Regions from separate parts of the Homo sapiens genome. Here regions 2, 3 and 4 are each linked to region 1. The links come from fine-mapping of genetic effects on gene expression. A gene starts in region 1. Each other region holds a variant in brackets. All regions are shown on one strand. Distances are between the middles of the regions. Region 1 holds the start of NMT1 (N-myristoyltransferase 1). Region 2 holds the start of MIR6784 (microRNA 6784). Region 3 overlaps NMT1 (N-myristoyltransferase 1). Region 4 overlaps NMT1 (N-myristoyltransferase 1).

What was found.
Region 2: its variant is fine-mapped to the expression of NMT1 in lung (TOPMed, PIP above 0.99).
Region 3: its variant is fine-mapped to the expression of NMT1 in whole blood (TOPMed, PIP above 0.99).
Region 4: its variant is fine-mapped to the expression of NMT1 in whole blood (INTERVAL, PIP above 0.99).

Annotation. Positions count from the first base shown.
Region 1 is chr17:45,057,349-45,065,226 of GRCh38, forward strand. NMT1 (N-myristoyltransferase 1) reads left to right here and starts at 3,969. Exons shown (of 12, transcript NM_021079.5): 1 at 3,969-4,112. The coding sequence starts at 3,982. It also overlaps a transcript of DCAKD not described here. RefSeq lists enhancers at 2,749-3,740, 3,600-3,779, 3,741-4,732, 3,880-4,239, 4,093-4,387 and 1 more.
Region 2 is chr17:45,110,087-45,117,964 of GRCh38, forward strand. It overlaps PLCD3 (phospholipase C delta 3), which reads right to left. Exons shown (of 15, transcript NM_133373.5): 8 at 6,546-6,698; 9 at 5,258-5,404; 10 at 5,008-5,158; 11 at 4,164-4,280; 12 at 3,353-3,519; 13 at 3,036-3,171; 14 at 2,777-2,926; 15 at 1-2,618. The coding sequence ends at 2,530. MIR6784 (microRNA 6784) reads right to left here and starts at 4,347; the gene lies at 4,281-4,347. RefSeq lists enhancers at 1,844-2,709, 2,710-3,574, 4,441-5,306. The variant T/C (reference allele first, on the strand shown) is at 3,552.
Region 3 is chr17:45,100,429-45,108,306 of GRCh38, forward strand. NMT1 (N-myristoyltransferase 1) reads left to right here. Exons shown (of 12, transcript NM_021079.5): 9 at 2,523-2,693; 10 at 3,281-3,448; 11 at 4,431-4,568; 12 at 5,191-7,878. The coding sequence ends at 5,211. Among named protein-coding and RNA genes, the nearest start is that of MIR6784, 10 kb to the right of the region's middle. RefSeq lists enhancers at 3,098-3,598, 6,431-6,932. The variant A/G (reference allele first, on the strand shown) is at 3,491.
Region 4 is chr17:45,091,610-45,099,487 of GRCh38, forward strand. NMT1 (N-myristoyltransferase 1) reads left to right here. Exons shown (of 12, transcript NM_021079.5): 4 at 2,076-2,194; 5 at 4,585-4,676; 6 at 5,519-5,635; 7 at 6,773-6,943; 8 at 7,796-7,878. Among named protein-coding and RNA genes, the nearest start is that of MIR6784, 19 kb to the right of the region's middle. RefSeq lists enhancers at 6,519-7,019, 7,020-7,520. The variant C/G (reference allele first, on the strand shown) is at 4,154.

The sequences.
Region 1 (7,878 bases):
CTGCATAACTCCATAAGGCAGAACCGGGCCAGCTTTTCACAAACCAAAATTGTTTCAAAGTGGAAAGCTCTCGGCTGGGCGCAGTGGCTCATGCCTGTAATCCCAGCACTTTGGGAGGCCGAGGCAGGCGGATTGCCTGAGCTCAGGAGTTGGAGACCAGCCTGGGCAACATGGTGAAACCCCGTCTCTACTAAAATACAAAAAATTAGCTGGGCATGGCGGTGTGTGCCTGTAATCCCAGCTACTCGGGAGGTTGAGGCAGGAGAACTGCTGGAATCCAGGAGGCAGAGGTTGCAGTGAGCCGAGATAGTGCCACTGCACTCCAGCCTGGGCAACAGAGTGCGACTCCATCTCAAAAAAAAAAAAAAAACAGTAATTCAGGCCAGGTGCAGTGTCTCACACCTGTAATCTCAGCACTTTGGGAGAGCGAGGTGGGCGGATCACCTGAGGTCAGGAGTTCGAGACCAGCCTGGCCAACGTGGTGAAACCCTGTCTCTACTAAAAGTACAAAAATTAGCTGGGCGTGGTGGCAGGCACCTGTAATCCCAGCTACTTGGGAGGCTGAGGCAGGAGAATCGCTTAAACCTGGAAGGCAGAGGTTGCAATGAGTCGAGATTGTGCCACTGCACTCCAACTTGGGTGACAGTGAGATTCCGTCTCAAAAAAAAAAAAAAAAAAAAAAAAGCCTGGGCGTGGTGGCTCACACCTGTAATTCCAGCACTTTGGGAGGCCAAGGCAGGTGGATTACCTGAGGTCAGGAGTTTAAGACCAGCCTGGCCAACGTGGTGAAACCCCATCTCTACTGTAAGTACAAAAATTAGCCAGGCATGGGGGTGCGCACCTGTAGTCCCAGCTACCGGGGAGGCTGAGGTGGCAGGATCACTTGAATCCAGGAGGCAGAGGTTGCAGCAAGCCGAGATTGCGCCATTGCACTCCAGCGTAGGCGACAGAGCGAGACAGTCTCAAAAATAATAATAAATAAAAATAACACACAAAATATCTTTTTATCTTTTATTTTATTATTGTAATCCCAAAGTGCTGGGATTACAGGCATGAGCCACCACGCCCAGCCTACTTTTTATTTTTTTTGAGACAGAGTCCCACTTTGTCACCCAGGCTGGAGTGCAGTGGCAGAATCTTGGCTTACTGCAACCTCCGCCTCCCAGGTTCAAAAGATTCTCGCGTCTCAGCCTCCCAAGTAGCTGGGATTATAGGCGCCCACCACTAAGCCCAGCTAATTTTTTTGTATTTTCAGTAGAGACGGGGTTTCGCCACGTTGGCCAGGCTGGTCTCGAACTCCTGACCTCAGGTGATCCACCCACCTCGGCTTCCCAAAGTGCTGGGATTACTGGCATAAGCCCCAGCGCCTGGCCTGGCTTTATTATTCTTCTTCTTACCTCTGACCCCCCCCTTCCCTGCAGCTGCAAATAGGGCAATCGCGTTGAACAGCAGTCTTAGACCCCGGAGAGTTGAGTGTGGTGACAGCTCTCAGACTGAGTGGGCATCTTTGACTGCCTTCCAAAGTCAAATATAAATGACTGAGGATTATCTGCTGCTTTGGATCATAATTACTTATGCTTATGCCATTGATATAAAAACAGAGTTGAGTTGGCCGGGCGCGGTGGCTCACGCCTGTAATCCCAGCACTTTGGGAGGCCGAGGCGGGCAGATCACGAGGTCAGGAGATCGAGCCCACCCTGGCTAACACGGTGAAACCCCGTCTCTACTAAAAATACAAAAAATTAGCCGGGTGAGGTGGCGGGCACCTGTAGTCCCAGCTACTTGGGAGGCTGAGGTAGGAGAATGGCGTGAACCCGGGAGGCAGAGCTTGCAGTGAGCCAAAATCGCGCCACTGCAATCCAGCCTGGGCGACAGAGCAAGAGAGCGAGACTCCGTCTCAGAAAAAAAAAAGAAAGAAAGAGTTGACTATATTTAGTTCTGTGTTTTATTTGTGTTTTCTTTCCCTGAGTCAGATGGGAACTGTTTCTTCCCGCCCTGCCATTCTTCCCATGTTGAGATCTTTCCCAAAGGCAAAGATCATTTCCCTTTTTGGCCATGGAGCACTCTGATGGTAAGAATTAGTCCTCTCATCACCCACCACACTCAACCCGAATAGGAAATTTCCAAGAATGGGAACCATGTCTTTGGGCACTTAGGCGAGATTACTCAATCAAAAGAGTGAGACTCAGGGACTGAAACATTCAATCAAGGTTAAAAACAGATTAAAATGTGGCAGTTACCTTTTTTCCCCTGATATAGAATACGCACTGGAGTCACAGTTACCTTTTAGTAACTGATTTCCTTGAGTGAATAGTGTATCAGAAAATGGGACTTTTATGGTGGCAAAGAATTCAGAGGGCCTGGGGCACACAGATCTGGATTTGTATACCGATTTGCCACTTAACCAGCTATGTGACTGTGCAATTTACCAACCTCTCAGGGCCACATTTTTTCATCTGTCAAAAAGGTCAATATGGCCAGGTACGGTGGCTCACACCTCTAATCCCAGCACTTTGGGAGGCCGAAATGGGCAGATCACGAGGTCAGGAGTTCGAGACCAGCCTGACCAACATGGTGAAACCCCGTCTCTACTAAAAATACAAAAATTAGCCAGGTGTGGTGGCGTGCGCCTTTAATCCCAGCTACTCAGGAGGCCGAGGCAAGAGAATCGCTTGAACCCAGGAGGCGAAGGTTGCAGTGAGCCGAGATCGCACCACTGCACTCCAGCCTGGGAGTCAGAGAGAGACTCCGTCTCAAAACAAAACAAAACAAAACAAAGGTTGAATAATAATAATAGGACCTATATTGTAGACTTGTTGAGAGGATTAAATGAGATAATGTACGAAATGCCTTACTACAGAGTCTGGCACTTATTAAAGAAAGAGTTGATGTGGGCTGGGTGCCGTGGCTCACGTCTGTAATCCCAGCACTTTGCGGGGTTGGGGTAGGAAGATCCTTAGAGGCCAGGAGTTCGAGACCAGCCTGGGCAACAAGGCGAGACCCTCGTCTCTACAAAAAATATATAAATTATCCGGGTGTGGTGGCTCATGCCTATAGTCCTAGGTACTTGGGAGGCTGAGGTGGGAGGATACCTTGATTGCAGTGAGCTGTGATCTTGAGCCATTGCGCTCCAGCCTGGGCGACAGAAGGCGGCCGTATTTAAAAAAGAAAAAAGAAAGAAAGAAAGAAAAGAAAAGAAAAAAAGGGTCGTTGTGGAAAATTCTTGTGGGGAATTAAAGGGACCACGTGTGCGCGAAAGAGCTTGGCGAAGATAAGTACCTGGAGGCCAAGATGAGGCGGCGAGCCCTGCCTCCCTAGCAGTGTGGTCTCCTGGCTTAGGGTCAGTGCTTCGCACAAAAAAATCCACTGCCTCTCATGAGACCTTGAACTGCCAATGACCGCAGGTTGCCCAGACTCCCGAGTGAGGAAGGCGGCCAGGAGTCAACTAGGCTTCTTGCGGAAAAGCCCACTCTAAGAAGGCCTGGGGCATTCCGGCTCCAGGCAGGTAGCACCCGCGGGCCTCAGGCCCTTTCACTTACCCGGGAAACGTAACGGTCCTTAACGGCAGCCAATAACGGCTCCCAGCGGCCCAGGCACTGGCAAGGGCAGGCTGAAATCAAACCTCGGATTTTGGAACCTCCACGCCTGAAACCCTAAACCAGCATCGAACTACAACTCCCATCATGCCAGGCGGCCGCCCGGTTCCCAAGGGTCGGTCCCACCAACCTTGCGCCCCTTCTTTCCTCAAAGCGTGGCCGAATGCCTAGGCTTCCGGGTATCAGTGGCCCCGCCTCTTAATCCGACCGGAGCCGTCCCTCGTGATTCCTGGGTATTGTAGTCAGTTTCCTGGGAAAGAGTCGCTCCTAGTGGCAGCTCGCTTCGCCAGAAAAACTACAAAACCCAGAATGCAGCGCAAATTCCCCTTGTCCAATAGGAACCCCCCATGTAGTGGGGCGCGGAGCCCTGCTCTCGCAACTCAAGATGGCGGACGAGAGTGAGACAGCAGTGAAGCCGCCGGCACCTCCGCTGCCGCAGATGATGGAAGGGAACGGGAACGGCCATGAGCACTGCAGCGATTGCGAGAATGAGGAGGACAACAGCTACAACCGGGGGTAACGAAATCCTCGGAGTCCAATTCCCGTCCAGCCTCCCACAACCTGGGTCTCTGGGGTGCGGGGAAGTCACCGGGAGCTTAGTCTAGCCCCACCCTCATGTTCTTATTGGCTAAGTCACTAGGATTCTGCCTGGCGATTGGTTATTGCCTTTGTCATTTACCAAGGGTGGGTGCTCTGGATATTAAGGGCCGGAGACGTTCAGTACTTTTATTATATAAAAGTTCTATGCAGTGTTCCACTCGTGTGCTTCAGGCCATTCCTGGGAAAAGAGCATGTTGGACGATGGTTTTCGATGGTACAACACAGGACAGTCTAGTAACAGTACAGTTCAAAGGGAACGTTACTTATAGACGTGTTGTTTGAACAACGTGACTAGCAATAAACGAATCATAAAACATTTCGCAGCAGTTCACCCTCAGTGAGGAAACTCATCAGACTATACAAACTGTATGTATAATTATATTGTAAAATATCACTACCAGAGAATCCCAAAATATAAACTCACCTTATAAACCTATGTAATTAACGGTATGGTAATGCTTTGATTTACATAGTTTCCATTGCTCCAAATAATCCATAAGTATCCTGAACGATATATTAATATAATTAAGTCTTCGAACATCTTTGCCTTGTTACCTTTGCAGAGCAGCCCCAGGCTTCAAGAAATGAGCGATGTTGTTTCTTGGAGAGTATTTGGAATCCTCGGGCTCCATACTGCCTATCCTGTACTTTAGGGTCTTGCCATTAGTTACTATTTGTTCCTAGGGATGAAGAAACACACCAGGCATTTGAATGTTGAATTCTTTTCCCAAATTAGTTTTTACTTCTGTAAGCCACAGCTTATTCATCTTTCTTCACATGGTTAGTGCCTGGCACTGGCACTCACGCTGTCTCTCCCCATCTTCCTGTCTATATTTGTAGATATATTTTTAAACTGAAAGTCGTGAGAGATTTTTGGGTGTATAACTTGCTGAGTCTGAGGTAGTCTGATTTTCGTAGCCAGCTTGTTATTCGCAGTATTGGTGGCAGTGCAGATATAAAGGTATAAAGACCAAGGACTGCGTAGAAGAGATGGTCCCACAAGATTATAGTACATATTTTTATTGTATCCTTTCTATGTTTAGGTATGCTTAGATACACAAATACTTACCATTGTATTATAGTTGCCTGCAGTACTCAGTAACATGCAGCAGCCTATTGCTCCTAGGCTACAAACCTGTATAGCATGTTACTGTAATGTACACCATATAGCCTAGGCATTTAGTAGGCTATACCATCTAGATTTGTGTAAGTACACCCTATAATGTTGGCAAGGCAAAAATCACCTAACCATGCATTTCCCAGCACATATGCCTGACGTTCAGTGAAGCATGACTGTATTTAAGTGGTTTATAATCTGCTTGTGGTAAATCTTAGGTTAAAAGATCTAGCTTTTATGTTCTTCAGCCGGCATTAAAAATCACAGGAAGGGCCGGGCATGGTGGCTCATGCCTGTAATCCCAGTACTTTGGGAGGCAGATCACGAGGTCAGGAGATCGAGACCATCCTGGCTAACACTGTGAAATCCCATCTCTACTAAAAATACAAAAAATTTAGCCGGGCGTGGTGGCGGGCGCCTGTAGTCCCAACTACTCGGGAGGCTAAGGCAGGAGAATGGCGTGAACCCAGGAGGCAGAGCTTGCAGTGAGCTGAGATCACGCCACTGCACTCCAGCCTGGGCGACAGAGCGAGACTCCGACTCAAAAAAAAAAAAAAAAAAAAAAAATCACAGGAAGAAAGTAGAGGAATAGGAAGCTTGCCAAATTTAGTTTTTATAAGACTGTTCTGTTGCTGTAACTCACAACAGATCTAATGTAATAAAAGTCTTCTTTTGAAGTTTGATATTCCTAAAAATGGAAGAGCTGAGAAAGAGGAAGTAGGAACAGGAAGAAGGGAAAGTGAAGCTCTCCTGAGTAGAGATCTGAATCACAGATGAGAGTTGGTGAATGTGAAAGTCATTCCAGAAGTGAAAGTGTGGCATTTTCTTTGCTCTTTTTGTAGTTGCTTTTATTTTTATCTTCTTAACTGTTGTCCTGACCAGTGTCCTTAGGTTTGTGCCCTATAATCTGTGAATCACTTTTCAAAACTGTGTGCCAGAAAGTTATTTTATTGGCCTGGCGTGGTAGCTCACACCTGTAATCCCAGCACTTTGGGAGGCCGAGGCAGGTGGATCACTTGAGGTCAGCAGTTCGAGAACAGCATGGCCAACATGGTGAAACCCCGTCTCCACTAAAAATACAAAATTTAGCTGGGCATGGTGGCGTACGCCTATAGTCCCAGCTACTCCGGAGACTGAGGCAGGAGAATCACTTGAACCTGGGAGGTGGAGGCTGCAGTGAGTTGAGATTGCACCACTGCACTCCAGCCTGGGCAATAGAGCAAAGCCCTGTCTCAGAAAAAAAAGTGGCACACAGTGGCTCATGCCTGTAATCCCATCACTCTGGGAGGCCGAGGCGGGTGGATCACGAGGTCAAGAGATTGAGACCATCCTGGCTAACATGGTGAAACCCTGTCTCTATTAAAAATAGAAAAATTAGCTGGGCATGGTGGTGCATACCTGTAGTCCCAGCTACTCGGGAGGCTGAGGCAGGAGAATCACTCGAACCCGGGAGGCGGAGGTTGCAGTGAGCTGAGATTGCGCCACTGCACACCAGCTTGGCAACGGAGCGAGACTCCATCTCAAAAAAATAAATAAATAAAATTATTTTATTTGTAGTAGAAGTAAGTGATAACCTTAAAAACTTTGACAGTTTGCAGTGGTGTCTCTGTGCATGGTTATGGTCTGGGTGAAAAAATTATGTTTATTAGCGTCCCAAATCTAAAGATCTGTGAAAATGAGTTTGGAGGTAGTAGGTGAAAAACCAAGGGCCTAGTCTGGAGGAGAGAGTCTAATTCTGGCACTAAGAATCTGGGGTAGAGTCAACATTTTTCCATGAACTTTGAGAGGAAATGGTTTTGGGGAGAAGCAGCAATGTGGGAAAATGCAGCACGGCACAGTAGAAAAGCATGGACTTTGGAATAATTTAAATCTGGTCTGAGGCCAGGCGCGGTGGCGCACATCTGTAATCCCAGCACTTTGGGAGGCTGAGGTGGGCAGATCGCTTGTGGTCAGGAGTTTGAGACCAGCCTGGCCAGCATAGTGAAACCTCATCTCTACTAAAAATACAAAAATTAGCTGGGCATGATGGCAGGCGCCTGTAATCCTAGCTACTTAGGAGGCTGAGGCAGGAGAATCACTTGAAAACAGGAGGCAGAGGTTGCACTGAGCTGAGATCTCTCCAGTGCACTCCAGCCTGGGCGACAGAGCAAGCCTCTGATCTCAAAATCTCATCTCAAAGCTTGGCTCTGACACTTAACAGTCCTGTGACCTTGGGAAAGGTACTTAACTCAGAGTTGTAGGGATTAATGAGATAACATCTGGAATGCACTCCTTTTCCTCCCTCCTCCTCTTTCTTCAGATCGTCCCTAACCTCCCAGCTTGCCCCTCTGCTCTTATCACATACTGTATTGTAGCTTTTATCGTAACAATAGTTATAATAACAATAAATATAACTACATGTTTGGTAATTTTTCTTAATGTGTCTGGTACCTGTCTCATCTGACAGTAAGGAGCATGTAAACAGGATTGTGTCTTCGAAATGCCTAGCACTTAGTGGGCATTAATGAGTATTTGCTGTATGAATGAATGGCAGATATTAAAGTGCCTAGCCCAGTATTAGTGGAG
Region 2 (7,878 bases), 53 kb after region 1:
AACAAAAAAAAAACCCTGTGATTTCTCCCTTGCTTCTGCTTCCCAGTTCACTTCCTTAAAGACTCTTGCCCTTTTGGCTGGGTGCAGTGGCTCACGCCTGTAATCCCAGCACTTTGGGAGGTCAAGGCGGGTGGATCACCTGAGGTCAGGAGTTCGAGACCAGCCTGGCCAACATGGTGAAACCCCGTCTCTACTAAAAATACAAAAATTAGCTGGGTATGGTGGCGGGCGCCTGTAATCCCAGCTACTCCGGAGGCTGAGGCAAGAGAATCGCTTGAACCCGGGAGGCAGAGGTTGCAGTGAGCCGAGATCACGCCATCGCACTCCATCCTGGGGGACGAGCAAGACTTTGTCTCAAAAGAAAAAAAAAAAAGACTCTTGCCCTTTCAAGGCAGCCTTCTCAGTATTGGGCCCTCATCCTAGCCTTCACCCCTTCCTCTTGGTACCAGATACGAAACCAGAGAAGCCAAGCAGGATGGGCACTCAGCCCTGGGTCTGGTGCTCACCTGACCCAGACCCCCCAGCCAGCCCCTGGCCAGACCTGGCTCTGCAGGGGCTGGGCAATGCTAATGGCTCTTCATTTGCTAAAACTGGACTTAGCCTCACTGTGCCTCCCATCCTGAGGCTGCAGTTTGGCAGCCTGACCCTCTGACAGCCCTGAGTGCCAGATGCCCGGGCTGCCTGGCCCGGCCCGCCTGGCTCGGCCCATTCCTTCTGGGCCCTTTTGATTCTGATTATCCTCTTTCAGACACACAAATTAACCAGAGCCAAACGCCACTCCCAGCATGAAGGAGCGGGGGACACTGCCACTTTCTGCATTAGTTCTTGGAGTTGCTAGAAGGTGGAGTCTGCCCCAGCCCTGTGTTTTGGTTTCTGTGGGGCTTGGGGCCAGTTCAAGGCCTATCCCAGCCCAGTTCCAGGCCACCCTCTGGGGACTAATGTCAAGTTCTGCCCTTGTCCAGTGCCGGCACTGTTGGCTGGCAGAACCTAAAACACCAGGCCTCCACATTTCACCCTGCTGGCAGGGGCGGGTGCAGGATTTTCTCCAGATTCTGTCGCCTAGTGTCCAGTGCGCTCTCCTGGCATTTCTATAGAGGCGGCCCAAGCAGCGTTTCCAGCCTTTGTGTAAAAGGCTGGCTGGCTGGAGGAAGGGAAGCCCGTGTCCTTGGGATTTGCCCTACTGAGCAGACAGGGGCCTTGAGCCCAGCCAAGCCTGGAGAGTGGCAGTCTGAGGGTCCCTCAGACTCCTGTCTCCTCCTCATTCAAGGCCCCTCTGTGTATGTGTGAGTGTGTGTGTGTGTGTGTGTGTGTGTGTGTTGTGGGGAGGCGCTGACCTGCTGAATTGGCATCCTCAGACAGTCTTGTGATACTCGCAGCAGCTTTAAGCCAGGAGCAGGGATCGGGCTATTTAGAGCTGTGGCATCTCCTGCTGCCACCCCCTGGCTGTCTTAGCCAAGTCCATGCCCTGTTGAGGGGAGAGGCCCAAGAAACTCATCCAGCCCTGTCCCTCCTCATGGGCCTGTGGGGGTGGCAGCATAGAGGTGCTCAGGGAGTGGCGGTGGTGAAATCAACGTGCTTCTTTATTTTTTAAACTAGATAGGCTCATTCTACTGTCTTCTCCAGGGCTCTTCTATGAAACAGTTACAAACCTACGGCCAGGCCAGGCAGTGGCTCACACCTGTAATCCCAGCACTTTGGAATGCTGGGGCAGGAGGATCACTTGAGGTCAGGAGCTCGAGACCAGCCTGGGCAACATAGGGAGACCCCCGCCCCCCCCGCCATCTCTACATAAAATTTAAACATTAGCCAGGTTTGGTGGCCTGTGCCTGTAGTCCCAGCTACTCAGGAGGCTGAGATGGGAGGATCGCTTGAGCCTGGGAGTTCAAAGCTGCAGTGAGCCATGATTGCAACATTGCACTCCAGCCTGGGCGACGGAGCGAGACCCTGTCTCAAAAAATAAAAACCAAAACCTACTGCCAGTTTCCCCAGGGCTTCATGCCTCAGCGCTCCCTTCTTGCTTTGAGAAGGGAAGGGGAGCTCAGGTTCCGGAGCTGGAGGGAGGAGTCCAGGAAGGCCTGGGGTAAAGGAGGGCTTAGGGGCTAAGCTCGGGGTCGGGGCCAAGTGGAGTGACTGCGCTCCTCTGGGGGAAGGAGGCTGGGATGGCCCACGGGAGGACAGAGGGGAACTGAGGGCCCACAAGTGTCCTGCTCCCCAAGTCTCCTGGCAGCAACAGGCTTGCTCCTCATAAGTCACAATGAGGGGTGGGCTGAGGACAAGAGGAGCTGGGGCCATCTCAGGGCCCCAGGGTTGGAGCTCACTGAAGTCACATGAACACCTTTCTGTTCTTCAGGAGGGGCCCAGGCAGCCCTCAGCACCCAGGTGAGACCAGCGCCTGGTGAATGGGCTGAGTGGGCCAAGTGGGTGGGCTGGGGGGCTGGTACTCCCACCACCTGACTCCAGAGGAGGAGAGGGCTCTGCAGGGGATGTGGACTGGCACTCGCAGAACCCCAAGGCGAGTGAGGTGGGCCCTCAGGAGCGCTGGATGCGGATTTGGATGAAGAGCGTGGCTGGTGACAGTGAGGCCCCGTCCTTGGAAAGCAGGTGTATGTGGCGGTACCCTGTAGGGAGGACAGCCAGGCCTCAGGTCCTCTGTGCACCCTGGGGGTCTGGCCCAGCCCGGGCCTGCTTCAGGGCAGGAAATTCGAGGCACAAAGGTGAACAGGGTCTGCAGGACCTGGACCCACATCCCTCTCCATCCCCACCAGCCTCCACCAACCTTGCTTTAGGCTGCTAAGAGGCAGTGTAAACTGGCCCACAAAGTCATTGGGGGAGGTGGCGTCATAATCTTCCACCACAAACCGGACCAGTGCCAGCTCCGGAGCCCGCAGCTGGAACTGCAGGGTCTGCCCCCAGCGGGGGTTGAAGCCTAGGGCACAGGGATGGCAGTCAGAGCCCAGGGGCCCCAGGACCCACCCTGCACCACCCTTCGCTCTCTGCAGTCTCCCCCAACCCCACTTCCGCCAGTGGCTGCCCACCATTGTTGAGCACGTAGTCAGTCTCCTGCCGGGCACAGTCTGCGGGCACCCCATGGATCTCAATGCGCACCAGGGGGTCCACAATGGAGTGTGGCTTCTCGGCATTCAGCTTGGGCAGCTGCTGTGCAGTCAGCACCTGTGGGTGAGGGAGGGAGTGGCTGGGGCCCACGCCCACCTTGGCCATCCCCTCATGGGCCTCAAGCTCACACCACCCTCACTTCCAAATGTCCCCAGCCTCCCTTGCCTTCCTCCACCTCACAAAGAGCCTTTCTAGAACCAGTCTGACCCCACACTGGGGCCCGTTCCAGCCTGCTGACCTGGATGCTGAGAGTGGTTCTGGGAGGTCCTGGGTACTCGGGGTCAAAGGTCGAGTCAGGTTGCCGCAGGCAGGCAGGTTTTAGGACGTAGCCACACTGCCCATTGACTAGGAAGCGCCCGGCATTGAGGTCCATCTCGTAGCCTGGCGTCTGGAAGTTCAAGGCCACTGTGGACACAGCAGGGTCAGAGCAGGGGCTC[T/C]TAGCGGCCCTGTTCTCACTACTCAGTTTCAGGGGACTGCATTCCTCTCTACAAAGGGCCTGGGGTCCCACTGTCTGCTTAGTGCTGCTCTGCTCCCACCATGACTTTAGGGGAGGGGGTCATGGACCCAGCCCCCACTGTCACCTGTACTTCTGCCCTGGGATCCCTCAAGACTGGGGTGGGAGGTACTAAAAAAGCCCCCACCCTCAGGGCCAGGCTTGGGTCAGAGCCAGGGGTCTGAGGAAGCCTGGGGTTTCCATCCTTACCCCAAGGAGACGATACAGCCCTCCTTTGGTGGGGCTCAGCGTCCCCCAGAGCCCACCCTTGTCAGTGTTGACTTAGTGGGACTGCCAGGTGTGTGGGGGTTGTGTGTGTCCGGGGGACATGGGAGTGGAGATTTTAATTTCTACCATGATAAAAATGCGAGACCTGTACACTGTCAAGAACAAACGAGCCTGATTTGATTTTCCCACCTACATTGCTGGCAACTTTAAAAATAATCAACAAAATGCGTGTTTCCACCGTCTGGAAGGCTGTGTGGGCCCCTCACTGCTGAGGCCTCCCCCACACTGTGGCACCCCGCCTGCTCTCATTCCTGTGGCCCCCACTTACCCAGCTGACAGCCCGAGTTCCACATCTCCTGGGGACTGTAGTTGGCTGAGTTCATCCGCAGCCCCAGCGGGTACACGCGGGTCAGCTGGCGGGCATTGTGCCTGACAAAGCTGTTCCCTGGGGCAGAGTTGGGGTGAGACCGTGACAGACTCCGGGGGTCCCTCACCCAAAGCCCCGGCCTGTAACCTCCAGGGAACAGAGCCCAAGCCCGTCCCCAGGTCACCCTGCCCCCGCTCCTCACTCTCTTCTGACCTAGAGTGAGAGGGGAGCTCACTGAGGAGGCTGCAGGGACCCCCTCCAGCCACACAGCCTGGCCCTGCATCCCCAGCCCCCAATTCCCAGCTCCTGACAAAGTTCCAACCAAGTACACTGAATGCCCACGGCCCTCCAGCTCCACTGTGGTTCCTGGAATTCTTCTCCAGGCCAAGGCCCCAGGCCTTCAACAACCTGTTCCTCCTGTCTGGAAAGCGCTCTCCCCTCTTCACCTGGCTGCTTCCTAGTCCTCCAGGTGATGTGTCCTCTCAGCATCACCTGCCCCAGGAATTCCTCCCCAGTGTTGCAGCAGCTGCTGGGCTCCCCCAGCCCCCAGCCCAGCCTGACCCATCACCCTCTATGGCCGGCCCCACCACAGGGCTCTGAAGGCAGACAGCAGGCCGCCCTCAGCGTGCCACTCCCCTCCATCCACCCTGGCATGTGCGGGGCCCTCATTCCCTCAGCCCAGCCCCTCTTTGGGGTCCTCTTGACCTCTTTACTGTCCCCCAAAGCCCCCTCAACTCCTTTCCAGACTCCCTTCAGGAGGTCTCTCACCCTCTCGCCCCCAGACACCCAGTGCCCCAGCTCCTACCTGCCTCCCGAATGAGTTTCTTGGCTTTGCGCTCGCTGAGGGAGCTGACCTGGCAGGGTTGTGGGGCGTTGGGGGCAGGGTGCAGGGTCCGCAGGCGGGTGGCGTGGCAGTACACAGCCAGGGCCGACAGCTCCGGGGAGATCTGCTTGGCCTAGGAGACCAGGCTCAGCGGGGTTCAGCTGGCCCCCGCTTCCCACATCCGTCCTCCCACCTTCCCCCCCTTCCCCACCCCACCCATCCCAGCTCTCACCAGCCGCCTCTGCGCTGCAGCCTCCACCTCCTCTTCTTCCTCCTCGTCATCCTCCTCCTCCTCCTCCCGATCCGACAGAGCCCGGCCATCCTCGCTCCGAGCAGCGGGCAACTTCTTTCCCTTCACCAGGACCCGGCCCTTCAGCTGCTGTGGGGGCCAACGTGGAGGATGAAGGGTTAGGCCTTCTCGCCCCTGTGGCAGCCAGTCAGTCAGTTATTCAACCACCGCCTTGTGAGGGGCTGGCTAGGGGTGGGAGGCAGGAAAGGAGACACAGAGATGAGCGATGTTTCTAATAGGAAAGAGTGGAGAATGGCCCGGGAGGCCATCAGGAAGGGATGCTTAATAAGGTCCCTCAACATCAGAATATACACAGCAGCCACTACAATGCACGCGACAGCTCAGGACTGAAAGGAAAGGGACCCTCTTCAAAGAAGATCTTACGTGGAAGAAGTGAGGCTACAACCTGGAATCACATGTCCTTTTTTGGTACCATTTAAAAGAGAAGACAGTACACATATGTACACAGGTAATGTGTGTGGGGAAATTCTTGAAGGACATGCAAGAAAGTTAGAGATGGTTACTTCTTGTGAAAGAGGACAGGTCAGTGGAGGGAGGGGAGCACTGCTCATCGCGTCCCTTAGTACAGCTCAGTTTTCTTTTACCATACGGGTGTGATTTTCACAGTAATAACAAAAATCACATCTCACACACACACGAGGGTGAGTCAACCCTGCCTGCATGTTGGGGATTGGAAGTAGGAGGAGAGTTTTCTCAAGGAGCCCGACAGGATAAATGTCTGGAGAGAGCCGAGGACGCGCTCTGGTGTCTGGGGGAGAGCAGGAGGCCGCCTCAGGCCCGAGAGTTGGGGAAGTGGATAAGGCCACAGGAAGAGGCGGCTGAAGTTGAGCTGAATTCTAAGCAGGTGACGCTTGGCAAGTGTGGATGGCCGAGAAGGGACTTCCAGGTGGAGAAAGTGTCAAGCGGGGCCTTGCAGGTGGGAATGGCAGAGCCTGCAGGACTCTACGGGCAGGGACACAGGGCCAGCAGGGCAAAGCCAGGTTACAGAAGAGGGTGTGTGTGTGGGGGGGTCTAGTCAAGAATGGAGAGCCAGAGGGCAGCAGAAGGACAAGACCAGGGGATGGCAGACCTCAGATGAACAGAGGAACAGAGAAAAGTTAAGGCAGCAAGAGGTGAGGGGTCCTGAGCCACAGAGGTGGCACGAGCAGTGCGGGGAGGCGGACTCCCACCAGACCTCCCTCCACCCAGGCTAGGGGCTGGGGGGCGTCACCTCTGGGGATGGCAGCTCCTCGGGATTTGGGGAGTCCAGCGCCTGTGTCACCAGCATGTCCCCCAGGATGGTGCAGAGGTGGCGGGCCATGGCAGCCTGCTGCTCCAGCCCGCAGTGGTTCTCCAGGGATAGGATGACAGGGTAAGGGGACAGCTGTGGGGGGAAGGGCAGCAGCTCAGAGCCACTCCCCTCCCTCTGCCAGTATCTCCCAACATCTGGCTCCCAGACCCTTCAGGACAGGCAGGCAAAGGCAGGGCTCTGGAGAACCCAGGGAAGCAGCAGACTGTCCAGGAGGCTGAGGGCGGCTGCAGGAATTATTTTTTTTTTCTTTGAGATGGAGTGTTGCTCTGTCGCCCATGCTGGAGTATAGTGGTGCAATCTCAGCTCACTACAATTCCATCTCCCGGGTTCAAGCGATTCTCCCTGCCTCAGCCTCCTAAGTAGCTGGGATTACAGGCGCCCGCCACCACACCCGGCTAATTTTTGTATTTTTAATAGAGATGAGGTTTCACCATGTTGGCCAGGCTGGTCTCAAACTCCTGACCTCAGGTGATCTGCCCACCTCAGCCTCCCAAAGTGCTGGGATTACAGGTGAGAGCCACCACGCCTGGCCGATTTTTTGTTGTTGTTGTCTATGCTTTGGTCTCTCTCCATCACCCAGGCTGAAGTGCAGTGGCACAGTCAGTCTCCCTGTGTTCTCCAGTCCTGGGCTCAAGTGATCCCCCCACCTCAGCCTCCTGAGTAACTCAGCCTACAGGCACATGCCCCCACACTCAGCTAATTTTTATTTTTGTTGAGACAGGATGTAGCTATTTGCTCAGGCTGGTCTGGAATTCCTGGCCTCAAGTGATCCTCGCGTCAGCCTCCCAGAGTGCTGGGAATACGGGTGTGAGCCACCGCACCTGGTCCCATAAATGCTTTTTACATGTGAATGACATTGACTATGTCAGTGATGTGAAAACTCTCCTCCCATCATTTGCTGATGGGAAGATTTGCACACTGTGACCAAAGTTGCAGTGTTTATGCAGATGCCACTGGTGAGCTTCTCTTACAGCTTATTTATTCTTTGGAAGTCATGATTAAAATGTCCTTCCCTCCCCCAAAGGTTTTCTTCTGGAAACTCTGTGATTTTTAGGACATTTCCCAAATATGAGAGAGGGAACATATTTCCCAAATATGAGGGTGGCATCTCATTCAGCTTTATGCCACCCCATTGGCCACTTATCCCAGCAGCACTTGGTGAATGAATGATTCTCTGGGCAAGGGTTTCCTCTGGAAGGACGGAGGGCAGCTGGCATGTGAGTGCGGACGGAGGTCATTGGGAAGGCTGTGG
Region 3 (7,878 bases), 43 kb after region 1:
GGTGTGGTGGGTGCCTGTAGTCCCAGCTACTTGGGAGGCTGAGGCAGGAGAATGGCATGGACCCGGGAGGTGGAGCTTGCAGTGAGCCAAGATCACGTCATTGCACTCCAGCCTAGGCGACAGAGCGAGACTCCGTCTCAAAATAAAAGAAGCCTGGGCGTGGTGGCTCACGCCTGTAATCCCAGCACTTTGGGAGGCCAAGGCAGGCGGATCACGAGGTCAGGAGATCGAGACCATCCTGGCCAACACGGTGAAACCCTGTCTCTAATAAAAATACAAAAAATTAGCTGGTCGTGGCGTGGCGGGCACCTGTAGTCCCAGCTACTTGGGAGGCTGAGGCAGGAGAATGGCATGAACCTGGGAGGCGGAGCTTGCAGTGAGCCAAGATCGCACCACTGCACTCCAACCTAGGCAACAGAGCAAGACTCCGTCTCAAAAAAAAAAAAAAAAAAAAAAAAAAAAAAAAAAGAAGGCCAGGCGCGGTGGCTCACACCTGTAATCCCAGCACTTTGGGAGGCCTAGGCGAGTGGATCACGAGGTCAGGAGATCGAGACCATCCTGGCTAACATGGTGAAACCCCGTCTCTACTAAAAATACAAAAAAAAATTAGCCGGGCTTGGTGGTGGGCGCCTGTAGTCCCAGCTACTCGGGAGGCTGAGGCAGGAGAATGGCGTGAACCCGGGAGGCGGAGCTTGCAGTGAGCTGAGATAGCGCCATTGCACTCCAGCCTGGCCCACAGAGCGAGACTCCATCTCAAAAAAAACAACAACAACAAAAAAAGGATTTTGCCATGTTGCCCAGGCTCATCTGAATTCCTGGGCTCAAGTGATCCACCCACCTCAGCCTCTCAAAGTGCTGGGATTACAGGCATGAGCCACTGTGCCCATCCCAGTAGGGATTCTTAAAATCCCTTCTCAGGTGGGCGGTGGCTCACGCCTGTAATCCCAGCACTTTGGCAGGACAAGGCGGGTGGATCACGAGGTCAAGAGATTGAGACCATCCTGCCAACATGGTGAAACCCTGTCTCTACTAAAAACACAAAAATTAGCTGGGTGTGGTATGTGCCTGTAATCCCAGCTACTTGGGAAGCTGAGGCAGCAGAGTTGCTTGAACCTGGGAGGCAGAGGTTGCAGCGAGCCGAGATCGCACCATTGGACTCCAGCCTGGCGACAGAGCAAGACTCCGTCGCAAAAAAAAAAAAAAAAAAAAAAGGAAAGAAAGAAAAAATCTCTTCTCTTTCCTCGGAGTGCTTCTTCCTATTGGTCATCAGTGCACACAGTCACTGCGTTCCTGCTGACATGAGGCTGCCTGCCTGGACTCCTCAGCCTCTAAACAGGATTGATCACTCTGAAATCAGGCTAATCCACCTAGTGATTGGGGTCATTAGTGTCCCATCTTGAGAGACTGCTGCAGTACCGTTAGACACTGCCAAAAGCACAGGCTTGGGGGACTGTGGTATGTGTCTTCTCCCTTCTGTTCTCATGACAGATCTGCCTTGCGTTCTAGGCCGGTGGGCAGGCAGGCAGAGAGCATTCTTAGAGTGCTGCAGCAGCAGAAGAATGTCTCACCCATGTCTGGGTGGAAACCCCAGCATGGCTGTGTTTTCAGTCCAGGATTTGAGGTATCATTGTGGGAGCTGCCATGTAGAATGAGGTCATTGAGCGTTCCCCTAAAGAGACGAGGATTTAGCAAGGAATTTTAGAGGCTGGAGGTTCTAGAACTGAAGTTTTAAAAGCAATTCCTGCACTGGGAAGCATTGTGTCAGGCACTGACTGAGGCCTGTAAACTGTGACACCACCCTGTTTGCAGATTGCCCCAAGGCCACCTTTGTGTATCTGAGCCTCTGGGGATGTTCTACCAGCCCCGGTATTTGCTCCACAGGATCACATGGTTTCATTCCACTGAAGCATTTTTCTAGCAAAAGCAGCTGCCGGGTGGGACGCTGACTGGGGATAAAATCCTGGGAGTATGCTGCTTTTCTTCTGAATGTAACCCACAGCCGTGTCTCTCTGGGAAGTACTGGTGTAATAGTGTCTGGGTGGGCAGACCCTGGCTGGGCCCTGGGGTCTGTCCGCGAAGTGCTCTAAGTCTAGCAGAGAAAGAGCAGTGAGTGTGGGATGGCATCAGTCACAGTTCAGTGAGAAGCCTGTGAGGACTGTTGGGCTGCGTGGGCAGAAGGTACAGCTAGAAAGGCCAACCTGGCCCAAGGGTAGAAATTCTTGTCTTCTGGGGTGGGGAGTTTGAAACAAGGGTGGAGCATGAAGGGTTGTGTTTTCTTAGGGAGTCAGCCTGGGGCCATGTAGATGGTTGATTGATGTAGCAGTCTGAGTCTGCCTGGACTAGGAGGGAAAGGGCCAGAAGATACGGAAGAGGCAGGCCCTGTGCCTGAGGAGATATGCACGGGGGTGCAGGGAGCCGCCGAATGACCAGGGATTCTCTCTTGAGGGCCTGATCTGTCCTTGCCATGGATAGATCCAGGGTGATCAGCTCATCTCACTCCATCTCTTCTGTCTTGCCTCCAGACTCCCAAGACAGCTGGGCTGCGACCAATGGAAACAAAGGACATTCCAGTAGTGCACCAGCTCCTCACCAGGTACTTGAAGCAATTTCACCTTACGCCCGTCATGAGCCAGGAGGAGGTGGAGCACTGGTTCTACCCCCAGGAGAATATCATCGACACTTTCGTGGTGGAGGTGAGTCAGGGAGTGGTGTTCCAGGTCTCTAACACGTTCCCAGAGAGGCACCCCCCTGAGTGGCCGGGTTCCCAGGGCTCGAGTGTTGGCACCTTAGACTTCCTTGACCATCCGTGTTTGGTCCTCCCTAAAAACAGGGAGTTGGTGCTTGAATTTGCTGAAAAGATACCTCTGGATCTGGCTTGAGCCCTTCTCCCCCTCTGCCCCACTTTGATAACACAAAATAGAGAGAACTGAGCCCCGCTTAATCCTTCAGGAAAGCCTGCAATTCCCTGCCTGTCCCAGCTTAACCCAGTGCTGACCAGACATAGGAGACACAGTCTGGGGGGATGTGAGCTGCAAGAAGAGGTCCCTGGCGGTGCCCATGCTGGGAAAGAGGTCTGGCAGGTTCAGCCCACGATCACGGCTCTGTCCTCAAGTGCCCTGAGCCAATGTCCCTCCTCCTCCCCACATGTCCTGTTGCAGTTTCCAGCCATTTATCTAGAGGGGCAGAGCTGCCTGAAGGTGGAGTGAGAGAAACATTTTGTTCCCGGGCCGCAGTGCCACTGTGCATGCTTGACATTGCCTCTTTATTGCCTTCCCTTCAGAACGCAAACGGAGAGGTGACAGATTTCCTGAGCTTTTATACGCTGCCCTCCACCATCATGAACCATCCAACCCACAAGAGTCTCAAAGCTGCTTATTCTTTCTACAACGTTCACACCCAGACCCCTCTTCTAGACCTCATGAGCGACGCCCTTGTCCTCGCCAAAATGGTGAGGAGCAGACGGGGGGGTCTCTGGAGATGTGCAGGGAAG[A/G]GGCAGTGGAGCCATGGTGAGCACAGCTCCCGGGACGCAGCCTCCCATGGGCTGGAGGCTCTGAGCCCTCCTCATCTGTTCTGCTTAGGCAGGGTTCCCGCAGTTTTTAGGCAGAAACTCAAAACTTGGAGGGAACAAGGAGCATCCGAAGTGAAGGCATTGAACTCCTCCTGATTCATTTCAGTGAGTTTCGTTCTCACAGGAGGCGCCACCAAGGAGCCTGAATAGCCAGGCCTTCCCTGGGAGGACAGGGCTTCTCCTCACAGCTTTCCCAGCGTGGGAAAGGGGTGATTGCTGTCTGTCGTGGTGAGTCATTGGAGCATCCAACTGCCAGTAGCGGATGGCGAGCCCGTCTGTCAGTGCTTTGCTGTGGGTTCTGGTAACCTGTGCCCAGCCCAGCCCAGCCTGCTGTAGGCAATCTGGTCCCTGCCCTGTGAGAGCTTCTGCTCCAGTTGGTGAGGTTTAGGAAGCATCTTCACAGTCTCCAAGCAACACAGCAGGTGTCATACAACATGAGGTGCACTGAGGGCCTGAGAGTTGGGGCATCCATGGAGTAAGGAAGCAACACAAACCCCATGTAGCTGACCAGAGCCAGCTTCTCAGAGGAATGGGCTCAGGGTTTGGACTCCAGAGAGGACTGTGGAAATTACTAGAGTTTCAGGGAGGCATAACCAGGAATAGCAAGAGCCCCGGCCTGGACACTGAGTACATATGTGTACACTCTGAGGGACACTGGGCAGAGGCCAGGCTGGAGGGGGCGCTCAGAGTGTCCTGAGAACCACCCGGAGAGCGGGGATTAACGTGGAAGCAGCGGAGCTTCTGAGGGAACCTTGTTCTTGTGGCTGCCCACAGGACAGCTTTGAAATGGCAGCAAAGGGGTAGGAAGGAGGCTGTCCCCACCTGTCCTCACCTGTTCTTGTTTGTCCCTGCTGCTTTGCAGAAAGGGTTTGATGTGTTCAATGCACTGGATCTCATGGAGAACAAAACCTTCCTGGAGAAGCTCAAGTTTGGCATAGGGGACGGCAACCTGCAGTATTACCTTTACAATTGGAAATGCCCCAGCATGGGGGCAGAGAAGGTAGGCGACACATAGCCAGAGTCCAGGCTGCCCGGCCCAGGGTGTCCATGTCTCCAGCAGAAACCGGGCCATGGGTTGAGGAGACAGCCGCAGTCTGGGTCCTTGTTACCTCGAGTTGAACCTTTGAAAATGCCCTCCCTCTGCTGGCCAGACCAGCAGGTCAGCGTTCCCCTCTCAGCAACTGGTGTGAGGATGGCAGAGGGGACAGAGCCACACAGTAGCACGAAGATCATCTCCAATGAGGCCTTCCCACGTGAGGGAACCGTGGAAGTTGAGTTGCCCACGGTTTGCCAGGAGGGTAGGGCTGGGGGAACTCTGAGGAGGTTTCCTCTCCTGAGCTGCTGCCCTCTTCTGGCATGACACTTTCTTAGCCCTTCCTCCCCCAGTGCCACAGGGGACATAGGGGTGAGCTGGAGCGTGGGCCAGTTTTCCCTGGGAGGTCTGATGGACGTGTGAACCCTGGTGTGGAGGTTGAGTGTGGGGCCGGCTGGGTGTGAGTCTGCTCCCACAGCACAGGCGGTGGACCCGGGCCCAGCCACTCGGAACTTCAGGGATAGGGGGTGTGGGAGAGTCTTTGGGCCACTGTCAACTCAGCTCTGCCTCTCCCTGTTGGCTTTCCTAGGTTGGACTGGTGCTACAATAACCAGTCACCAGTGCGATTCTGGATAAAGCCACTGAAAATTCGAACCAGGAAATGGAACCCCACCACTGTTGGTCCAATTTTCACACACGTGAGAATCCCTGGCAAAGGGAGCAGAACTGAACCGGCTTTACCAAACCGCCAGCGAACTTGACAATTGTATTGCGATGGCGTGGGCTGCGTGACGTCACCTCCGGTCGTGTCTCTGGTCTCCGTGTTTTCCAGTTAATTACATCCTCATGCAGCCGTGATCAAGGGAATGTAACTGCTGAAAACTAGCTCGTGATTGGCATATAATGGAGTTAACGGGTGAATAATAAAAGTATATATATATATTATATATATATAAATATTTTAAATATCTTTCATGTTCCAAATGTACAAGGATGTTTGGTCTTTAATGAAAAGCTGAATCCAGATCATTCCTCAGAATGAGGACCCGAGGACAGTGGCAGACAGACGCGTTGGCACAGTTCATGGTTTCCTCCAGAGGAGACATTGGCTTATCATGGGGAAAAAGAGGATCTGGAGAACCTCATCCAGCTCCCCTTCTGAATCAGCTGGGATGACTGGCTTTGAGAAGGAAGGGAAGATGGAACAGGCTCAGATCTCATGGGATAGCACGTGGAGCTCTTGGCTGGGGCTGACCCTGGGCAGGGACTTTCCTGCAGGGCCAGACCTGCCTGCATTCTGAGACAAAGCAATGGACGGTCCGCAGAAGCAGACCTCATTGATTGAGTCCTTTCTTCCATCCCCTTGGCCTGCTCCCTGTAGGAAGTCATCCTGCCAACTGATTTAAAAGGGCTCTTTAGCCAGTTGTTGCCAACCTTATAGGGATGAGTCCCCTGTGAGATTTTGCTTTTCCACTGCCTGGGATGATGCAGTTTGAAGAGGCCCTTGGACCTCCTTGTAACATCAGGGACCTTTGGAGACCATTATCAGTGTAAGCCCTGCTTAGCTCATCTTAGAGCAAAGAGCCAGCACCCTGATGTCCCTGGGGTGGCTAGGCAGGAGTGGCGTGGGGCCAATACCCAGACCCCTTCAGCCACCAGCCCCTGGCCTGTGCCTTCCAACCCATTAGCCATTTCTTGTTGTGCCCCTTTCCAAGATACAGCCTGCAAGTGGTAGCAAGAAGTGATTAGAGGCAGATCTGGACTTGGCAACAGAAGTGGTTTCCCATCTCCATTGTCTGAGTCTGATTTTCGCTGATGCTGTTTTGTGGATTTTTGTGGTAGTGATGGTTGTCAGTGCTGCCAGTTTCCCAAAACGTAATCAAGCCTCTGGTCACATGGCTGTCGATGTAGGCATTCTGGAGTGGTGTTCAGCCAAGTGACCGGGCAAAATTGGGCTGTGAAATTGTACTTCCAGGCTTGGATGTAATTTTTGCTCTAGAGAGAAGCAAGTGGTGGGAAGGAGGTAGCATGACGTGTGGTGTGCGGGTTTCCTTGCTGCCGTCACCTCTCCGCTCATACAGGAATGAAGCCTTAGCCAGGAGGCCAGGCTCAGCCCTGTGCCACTCACCGAAGCCACTTTCTACAGGCCAGCAGGGGCTTGTTGCAGGCTGTGGGTTTTGGTGTGGTTTGTCAGAGGCTAATTCTGCAGAGTTTCCAAAACCAGAAGACATCGTATGCTTGGGATGGGGGCCGTGCCACCCGTGGGAATGCTGCCCGCTCTGCAGACTGCTGCTAGAGCCAGCAACTCCACTAAGGTGGATTTTCATCAGGGGCCTGCAGGGCCCTCCCTTTTCCCATTGTTCCTGCGCTGCAAATTGCAGGCCCCAGCAATCGTGACTGACGTTTGCTCCTTGACTCCAAGAAACTGAGACCAAAGAAGCTGCTGTTCTTAGCAAGATGCGCACTGCATTCCACAGGTGGGAGGAGTCGGAGAGGCAGGGGCTTGCTTTGCAGCCCCACAGACAACAGTTGCACAGTGCCTCAAGCCCCAGAGTGGCTCACCCTGTCCAGACCTTTGAGGATATCAAAGGACAAAGTGCCCAAGTCTTTCCTACCTTGGGGGAACCTGGAACTTGGAAAGGCTCCCTGTCCTAGTCTTGATCTGTTCTGGGCCAGGTCCCAGCTTGAGCTGCCTCTGAGATTTGGGCTGTGCGGATCTCTGGAGTGAGCTCTGTTTCGGTTGACCCAGGTCATGGAATGGAAACGGTGAGGCCCCAGTGGCTGTTCTGGAAGAAACAGATCTCCTGGCAAAGGCCCCAGCATCTCCCTCACTGAAACCAGGTGGCCGGCTCCTCGGACTCTGCTTTATGTTGCGGTGAGAACTCTGCCCAGGTGTGCAGGGTTTGGCTTGTGGGCTGCTTGCTGCTCATCTGATTTTTGTCCCAGTAGTCCCTGCGTTCTTCATTCAACCCCTTCTGGGACTTCAGCTCAGAGAGCACCATCCCGGGGGTCAGGGCCTCCCCACAGGAGCCCTGCAGTGTGGTAGCGCCATGGCTGTCTCAAACCAAGCAAAGGAAGGACCCTGAGGCCTTCACGCTAACCGTCCTCGAGCAACTGCTGTTGGAAGGCCTCCCTGGGCCTGGCCCCCACCCTCTGCCACCCAGTCCTCCCAGCTGCCATGTTTCAAAGACGACCTTTACCTCCTGCCTTTGGATTGACTCTGCATTTGACCACGGACTCCAGTCTGTGTGTAGGGAGAGAGCTGAGTAGGAGGCCT
Region 4 (7,878 bases), 34 kb after region 1:
TAGATAAGACTAGAGGGTCTGGCCCTCAGTTTTGTAGGCTCAAAAATGTTTTTTTAATATACATAGCTGTCAGTTGGAAGCGGATTGACTTAAATTCACAAGAGCTACTTTATGAATAATCAAATGGTGGGTTTTGGCTGGGCGCCGTGGCTCATGCTATAATCCCAGCATTTTGGGAGGCCAAGGCAGGAGGATCACTTGAGTCTAGGAGTTTGAGACCAGCCTGGGCAACAGTGAGACCTCATCTCTATGAAAAATAAAATTAGCCAGGCGTAGTGGCGCATGCCTATAGTCCCAACCACTCGAGAGGCTGAGATGGGAGGATCGTTTGGGCCTAGGAGGTCGAGGCTGTAGTGAACCAAGGTTACGCCACTGCATTCCAGCCTGGGCAACAGAGCAAGACCCCATCTCGCCAGTCATGAGTTTCCTAACTAGGGAAGAAAAATATGACCTCTCTCCCAAGCAAACCTGTTGGGAAGCCTGATTACCAACAGAGCAGGCTGCTTCCCTGTTGTGTGTCCCTGCACTTTCCAGATCCTGACCTGCAGCACGTGGATAATGACTCATTTATTTACTATTTCCCCAGAAGATGGTATGTCTCATGAGGACAGGGACTTGGTCCTTTTTCCTGCTGTACACTAGGGGCTGGCATGGTCACTGAGTCACTGGTGCACGGTTGGTGCTCAGTAATGTGTCTGATGGAAGAGGGTGAGATGATCAGTGCCAGCGGTGGTGTCGTGTGCTGCAGCCTGATGCAGCCCTTTCCACCACACTTGCCCCACAGATTATCATTCTGGGAAGGTCTAGAGCTTCCTGTTACATGTTAGAATGAAATGTTTGGACTTTGGGAGGCCGAGGCGGGTGGATCACTTGAGGCCAGGGGTTTGAAACCAGCCTGGCCAACATGGTGAAACTCCATCTCTACTGAAAAAAAAAAAACAAAACACCAAAATTAGCCAGCGTGGTGGCGGACACCTGTAATTCCAGCCACTCGGGAGTCTGAGGCAGGAGAATTGCTTGAACCAGGGAGGTGAAGGTTGCAGTGAGCCAAGATCGCACCACTGTACTCCAACCTGGGCGACAGAATGAGACTGTCTCAAAAAAAAAAAAAAGAAAAGAAAAGAAAAAAAAAATATTTGGGATCAGGAGTCTGAAAGTCAGTAAAAGCATGAATTGAGTGCCTAGTCTATACAGAGCCCTTTGCTAGGAACACTGTTACTGGGTTGGTCCCTTTTGAAGACTCCATTTTCCAAAATGCACTAAACATTGCATTCTTCCCAGTGTAAACATGAGTGAGCCCATTGTAGAACCGAAATCATCCCAAGGGCCAGAATTCAGTGGTGAATCTCTCAGCATATATGAGTCCGATTGAGCTCTGGATAGGAATGAGGGCTGTGTCTTTGGAGCACTCCCCACATGCTCCCACAGAGGAGGGGCCTATCCTGCTCAGGGAGGGGATGTTGTGTCAGGGTGACTTCCCGGCAGCACTATGTAGACTTGGTGATTCAGCCCAAAGGCACTTGCAGGACTCTAAACACTGAGGGCCTGAGTTGGCAGTAGCAGTTAACTGGCTCACGCTGCTGAAAGCCAAGGCTGGCAGGGCCACGATTGAGCCTGGCGCCTAGAAGCCATCATCTGGTTCAGAAATGGGCCCAGTACATTGTTGTTGCTGTTGACACAAAAGCAGCCTTGTTGTGACTCCTTACAAACCCATCCAGACTGATGGGCCTGGGCCAGGGCCCTGACAGCACTCTTTACACCAACCAGGAGGCAGGAAGCCAAATTACTAAAGATAAATGTTTGTCATTCAGTGACCCAAGGGAGATTTAAATGGATTTCCAAAACACGAACCACCTTGGATCCCAGTGATTGTCCTGAGGTTTTGCCATGAATTGGCCCTCAGTTAGGGGCTAAGGGTAGCTGGAAAGACGGTTTGCAGTTGCCAAGCACAGAATGTTCTTCAGATAGAGGGCTCCTAGGGACAGGAGGAATTTGCTCTGGTTGAGTTTTGAACTGAGCCCTTTACTGCCCCGAGGGGGCAAAGGGTGAGGCTCACAGCTGTGCTCTTCTTTCAGGCGAAGTGGTGAACACCCATGGCCCCGTGGAGCCTGACAAGGACAATATCCGCCAGGAGCCCTACACCCTGCCCCAGGGCTTCACCTGGGATGCTTTGGACCTGGGCGATCGTGGTGTGGTGAGTGGGCCCTCAGAAGGTTACACCTGCGGGTAGGAGCCACTTTCACAGTAAGCCCTGCAGTCTCACCTAGACTACGTTTACTCGAGCCCTAGAGAGCTGAGCCAAGGAGGTCTGAACAGACTCCCGTCTGTAACTTCCTGGGGCATGGCCAAGACTCCACATAAATAGCTCTTAGCTTTTCTGGCAGGTTGGAAGTTAACCTCTGTAGGTCCCCGATGTGGATACCTGTTTTTCATTTATTCTTTTTTGTTCATTCATTTCCTCATTTTCTTTCTAGTCTGTCTCCTGACTGGAGCAGCTGGGGCTGCTAAATGAGGCCCTGTCCTCCCCTTTCCACCCCGGCCACCCAGAGCCCCTTGTTTTGACCTGAGGGATTTATTTCCCTTATAAAGAATGATGAAAATGTCGCCGGGCGTGGTGGCTCACACCTGTAATCCCACCGTTTTGGGAGGCTGAGGCAGGCGGATCATGAGGTCAGGAGTTTGAGACCAGTCTGACCAACATAATAAAACCCCATTTCTACTAAAAATACAAAAAATTAGCCAGGTGTGGTGGTGTACGCCTGTATCCCAGCTACTCAGGAGGCTGAGGCAGGAGAATCTCGTGAACCTGGGAGGGGGATGTTGTAGTGAACTGAGATCTCACCATTGCACTCCAGCCCAGGTGACAGTGCGAGACTCTTTGTCTCAAAAAAAAAAAAAAGTCAACAGAATTTTTTTTTTTTTTGAGATGGAGTCTCGCTCTGTTGCCCAGGCTGGAGTGCAGTGACACCATCTCAGTTCACTGCAGTCTCTGCCTCCTGGGTTCAAGCGATTCTCCTGCCTCAGCCTCCCGAGTAGCTGGGATTACAGGTGAGTGCCACCACGCCCAGCTAATTTTTATATTTTTAGAAAAGATGGTGTTTCACCATGTTGGCCAGGCTGGTTTCGAACTCCTGACCTCAGGTGATCTGCCCATCTTGGCCTCCCAAAGTGCTGGGATTACAGGCAATGAGCCACTAGGCCTGGCTTTTTTTTTTTTTTTTGAGACAGAGTCTGGTTCTGTTGCCCAGGCTGGAGTGCAGTGGCGCGATCTTGGCTTACCCCAACCTCCACCTTCCAGGTTCAAGTGATTCTCCTGCCTCAGCCTCCCAGGTAGCTGAGATTACAACCATCTGTCACCATGCATGGATAATTTTTGTATTTTTAGTAGAGATGGGGTTTCACTGTGTTGGCCAGTCTGGTCTCGAACTCCTGACCTCATGATCCACCCATCTCGGCCTCCCAAAGTGCTGGGATTACAGGCATGAGCCACTGCGCCCAGTCTTTTTTTTTTTTTTGAGATGGAGTCTTGCTCTGTTGCTCAGACTGGAGTGCAATGGCACAATCTTGGCTCACTGCAACGTCCACCTCCTGTGTTCAAGCAATTCTCCTGCCTCAGCCTCCCCAGTGGCTGGGATTACAGGTGTCTGTCACCACGCCAGGCTAATTTTTTTATTTTTTAGTAGAGATGGGGTTTCACCACATTGGCCAGGCTGGTCTTAAACTTCTGACCTCAGGTGATCCGCCCACCTCAGCCTCCCAAAGTGCTGGGATTACAGGCTTGAGCCACCACACCGGGCCAACAGAATTTTTTAATACCAAAGTTGGGCCAGCAGATGGAGATAGCTGAGAAGGCAGAAAAAGGCCTTTGTGGTTGGGTGTGGTGGCTCACACCTGTAATTCCAACAATTTGGGAGTCTAAGGTGGGAAGATCGATTGAGCCCAGGAGTTCAAAATCAATCAGCCGGGTCAATATAGTGAGACTGCCCCCGCTACAAAAGAAAAAAATTTAATAATTAGCCGGACATGGTAGTATGCCCCAGTAGTCTCAGCTACCCAGGAGGCTGAAGTAGGAGGATCGCTTGAAACCAGGAGTTGGAGGCTGCAGTGAGCCATGATCACACCAGTGCACTCCAGCCTGGGTAACAGAGTGAGA[C/G]TCTATCTTGAAAAGAAAGGAAAAAAGGCCTTTGTTTGGGCCAGATGGTAAAAAATCAGACAAGGTGGGAAACAGCAGTGACTCTCCGTGGTAATTCCTTGACTAGCTTCGAGAGTCGTCCCTCTATAGCACTTCACAGAAGTTGAGACCAGTGGCTCTCCATTGTTGATGGCGCAGAATGATGAAGTGGTTGGTTAGTTAGGTGGCATTCTCGGTCTGCCACTCTACCACGTGATGGCTCAGTTTTCTACTATAACTAGGGTGTTTGCTCCAAGAGTTCCTACCATGCCAGGGGGCAGAAGGATTTGTGAGACTCCACGTCGTTTTTGGTAGTTTGCTTCATCCTTCTGAAAAGCCTAGAGCCCCAGGGTATTGGAGTTGGTCTACTACCTGGCAGAATACCTCCAAGTGAGCTGCTTATTTCTTTACAGCTAAAAGAACTGTACACCCTCCTGAATGAGAACTATGTGGAAGATGATGACAACATGTTCCGATTTGATTATTCCCCGGAGTTTCTTTTGTGGTAAGTTGTGGGGGCTTTCTTGAGGTTCTTGAGAGGAAGGCATAGAGCAGATCCACCAGAGGGCACCAGAGTTTTCATCCCTGCCAGGGGCCAACCTTTGAATGGCAAATTAGTGTGTCATTTTTGAGTTCCTGCATCTGAAGGACACTTGCTTTCATTAGCACTTAGAATTGCAGCCTTGTTTAAGACAATTGACTGGGTGAGGGAGACCTTCGTAGAGCTAGTACCCAGGGAAGAGGTATTCATTGTCTGGTGACTTTATATAAGAAAGGAACGGGCATGAGACCTACTAAGACTGAAAGAAAAGAAGGCACATTTTCTATCTAGTTCCTGAGCATGCTCAGTTGTATAGCCTTGCCTGGCTGAGCCATCCACCTGCCCAGGCCACGTTTAATATCCAGGAAGAGAGAGGCATGGGCCGAAATGGAGAGGGACTACCTGAAAGGGAAGGAAGAATTTGTACCAGAAAGAGGGAGACAGGACACCAGAGCTCCAGGGTTGCCACAGTCAGCTCTCAACCATGGGACCCACTGGCCTCCGAACCAAAGATGCCAGTACCTTGGTTCAAGCTGTCAAAGTGAACACAGAAATTGGATCAGGCATGAAATCCTCAGTATGATAACCTTGGGTTGGATGAGTAACTAGGCCAAATGGGATGAGCAGCCAGAAATGGTGATGGCTCGATTCTGTGTGTCCAGGAGGGCTTGGCCCTAAAGAGAATCCAGCTATTAACCCTCAGGGAGGTGGTAGCACCAGGTCCGAACCAAATTTGGCTGTGGAGCCCAAGCGGCTTGTCCAGCCTGCCGGCAAGCAGCACAACCACCCCAGCCTCTCTTTTCCAGGGCTCTCCGGCCACCCGGCTGGCTCCCCCAGTGGCACTGTGGGGTTCGAGTGGTCTCAAGTCGGAAATTGGTTGGGTTCATTAGCGCCATCCCAGCAAACATCCATATCTATGACACGTAAGCACCTGCACCTACCCCCACCCCCCACAACACCGCCATCCTGCTTGGTCTGGGAGAGAGTAGAAAAAGGCTGCACAATGTGCCCCATGAAAGGAAGAGGGAAGGTCTCAGGAAGGGAGGATGCCCAGGTGCGGGGACTGCAGATTCATCCTAGGAACCACCTGTTCTGCTCAGAGTCCCAGCCAGCTCCCTTGTTTGTGGCCCAGGTTGGAAGGAGCCCACCCTGAGGCCTGGTGTGCCTGCTCAGCAGAGGCTTGTTTTTGTTTTTGTTTATTATTTTTTACATTTTATAGAGGCAAGGTCTTGCTATGTTGCCCACGCTAGTCTCAAACTCCTGAGCTCAAGTGATCCACTCACCTCTGCCTCCCAAGAGTGTTGGGAATATAGACGTGAGCCATTGTGCCTGGCCAGAGGCTTTTCTTAGTCTCACTCTGTTGCCCGGGCTGGAGTGCAGTGGTGCGATCTTGGTTCACTGCAAGCTCCACCTCCAGGGTTCAAACGATTCTCCTGCCTCAGCCTCCCAAGTAGCTGGGATTACAGGCATGCGCCACCACACCTGGCTAATCAGAGGCTCATTTTTGAACGCCTGTACCAGTCACACATGGAAGCACTTGAACAGCAGCAGAAATGGGCCAGAGCGAGTGTGACCCAGATTCAGATAGTCCTTGGGGCCTGTGATCTCTGCTCTTCATTTTCCCTGGAAGTGTTGAAACCATCTGCCTGCCACAGTCTTCAGGGCTTATTACCAGCTGTGTTCTTGAGGGAATCAGAACCCTTGAAACCCTAGAATTGCCTTGACCTGCCCCGTGGGTTCCCTGTGCTGCTTCCCTGCATGCTAAAGGTGGGATTCCCCAGCCAACTCCTAGGGACTCATCAGGGAGATGCTGGTGGTACCTTCAAATAAAGGTGTTTGCTTGGGTCCCACCTTCCTTTGGAAATAGATTCTGTTGAAGTGAGGCAGGCTCCTTGCCTGGTGGAGTGTGGTGGGGAGTCCCAGTACTGAGTGCAGGTGGCAGCTAAAAGTACACCCGTGCTGCAGACCTGGTCCTTCTAGGTGTGGCTGCACGTGCTTGATGGGATCACCATTCCCTTCCCTGTTAAAAACCTTGTCACCTGGATTTTTCCCCCTCTTAGAGAGAAGAAGATGGTAGAGATCAACTTCCTGTGTGTCCACAAGAAGCTGCGTTCCAAGAGGGTTGCTCCAGTTCTGATCCGAGAGATCACCAGGCGGGTTCACCTGGAGGGCATCTTCCAAGCAGTTTACACTGCCGGGGTGGTACTACCAAAGCCCGTTGGCACCTGCAGGTAAAACTGTCTTCCTGTAAGGCCCCAAAAATGCGGGTGTCTGCACTGTAGTTGAGGAGCATGTGCCACTGTGAGTCACAGCTCCGCCCTTAGCATCCCACCTCTGGCGTATCTGGTAAGGCGGGCACTTGGTGCCTGCAGGAGCCAGATGGGGAGCATGGAGAGGGCGGGAGGGTTGTAGGGATGGCAGATTGGCAAGTCCCTGCCTTGTCTGGAGGGCTCTTGGTGTCTGCTGGCTGCTGCCATTTGGAGATGGTGGGGGGCGGTACTGGTGGTTTGTTTTTGTTTTTAGGGATGAGCCCAAATCTGGATTTTTATGGGAAATGTCCTAAAGTTTTAAATGGTTGGCTCAAATTGTTTTGAATATTGTGTGCACCAAATAGAGCAAGTCAGCTATGTGATCTAAGGGCAACCTCTGCCTTAGAAAGTTGTTTAAAACAATTGAATAATCTCTCCTTAGAGAACTTTAAAAGTAAAAACACCAGGTGTGAAAGCAGAAGGGGAGGAGGGAGGAGGGTGAGTGCCTCTGCCATCATCTTCTGGGCATGACTACAGTCCTTTTCCGTTGACTTGATTCTAGGAGTGAGGATTGGTCTCCCCAGACAACCGCTGTAGCAAAGGAATAGTTTTTGAAATTGAGCAAGAAAAATAGGGAGAAAGAAAATCCAGGAGGAGCTTTGGCAGCACTCACTGTGGGGAGGGGGAGGCTGGAGAGCAGGGTGACACCACTGACTCCGGAGGCACCTGATGTGTCTCTCACGCCACCTGCTGGCCAGCTGGGGTCTCCCTGCCATTGTCCTTGTAATAGGGATTGGCCAGAACCCTGAGGACAGGACATTTGTGTCCCCACAGGTATTGGCATCGGTCCCTAAACCCACGGAAGCTGATTGAAGTGAAGTTCTCCCACCTGAGCAGAAATATGACCATGCAGCGCA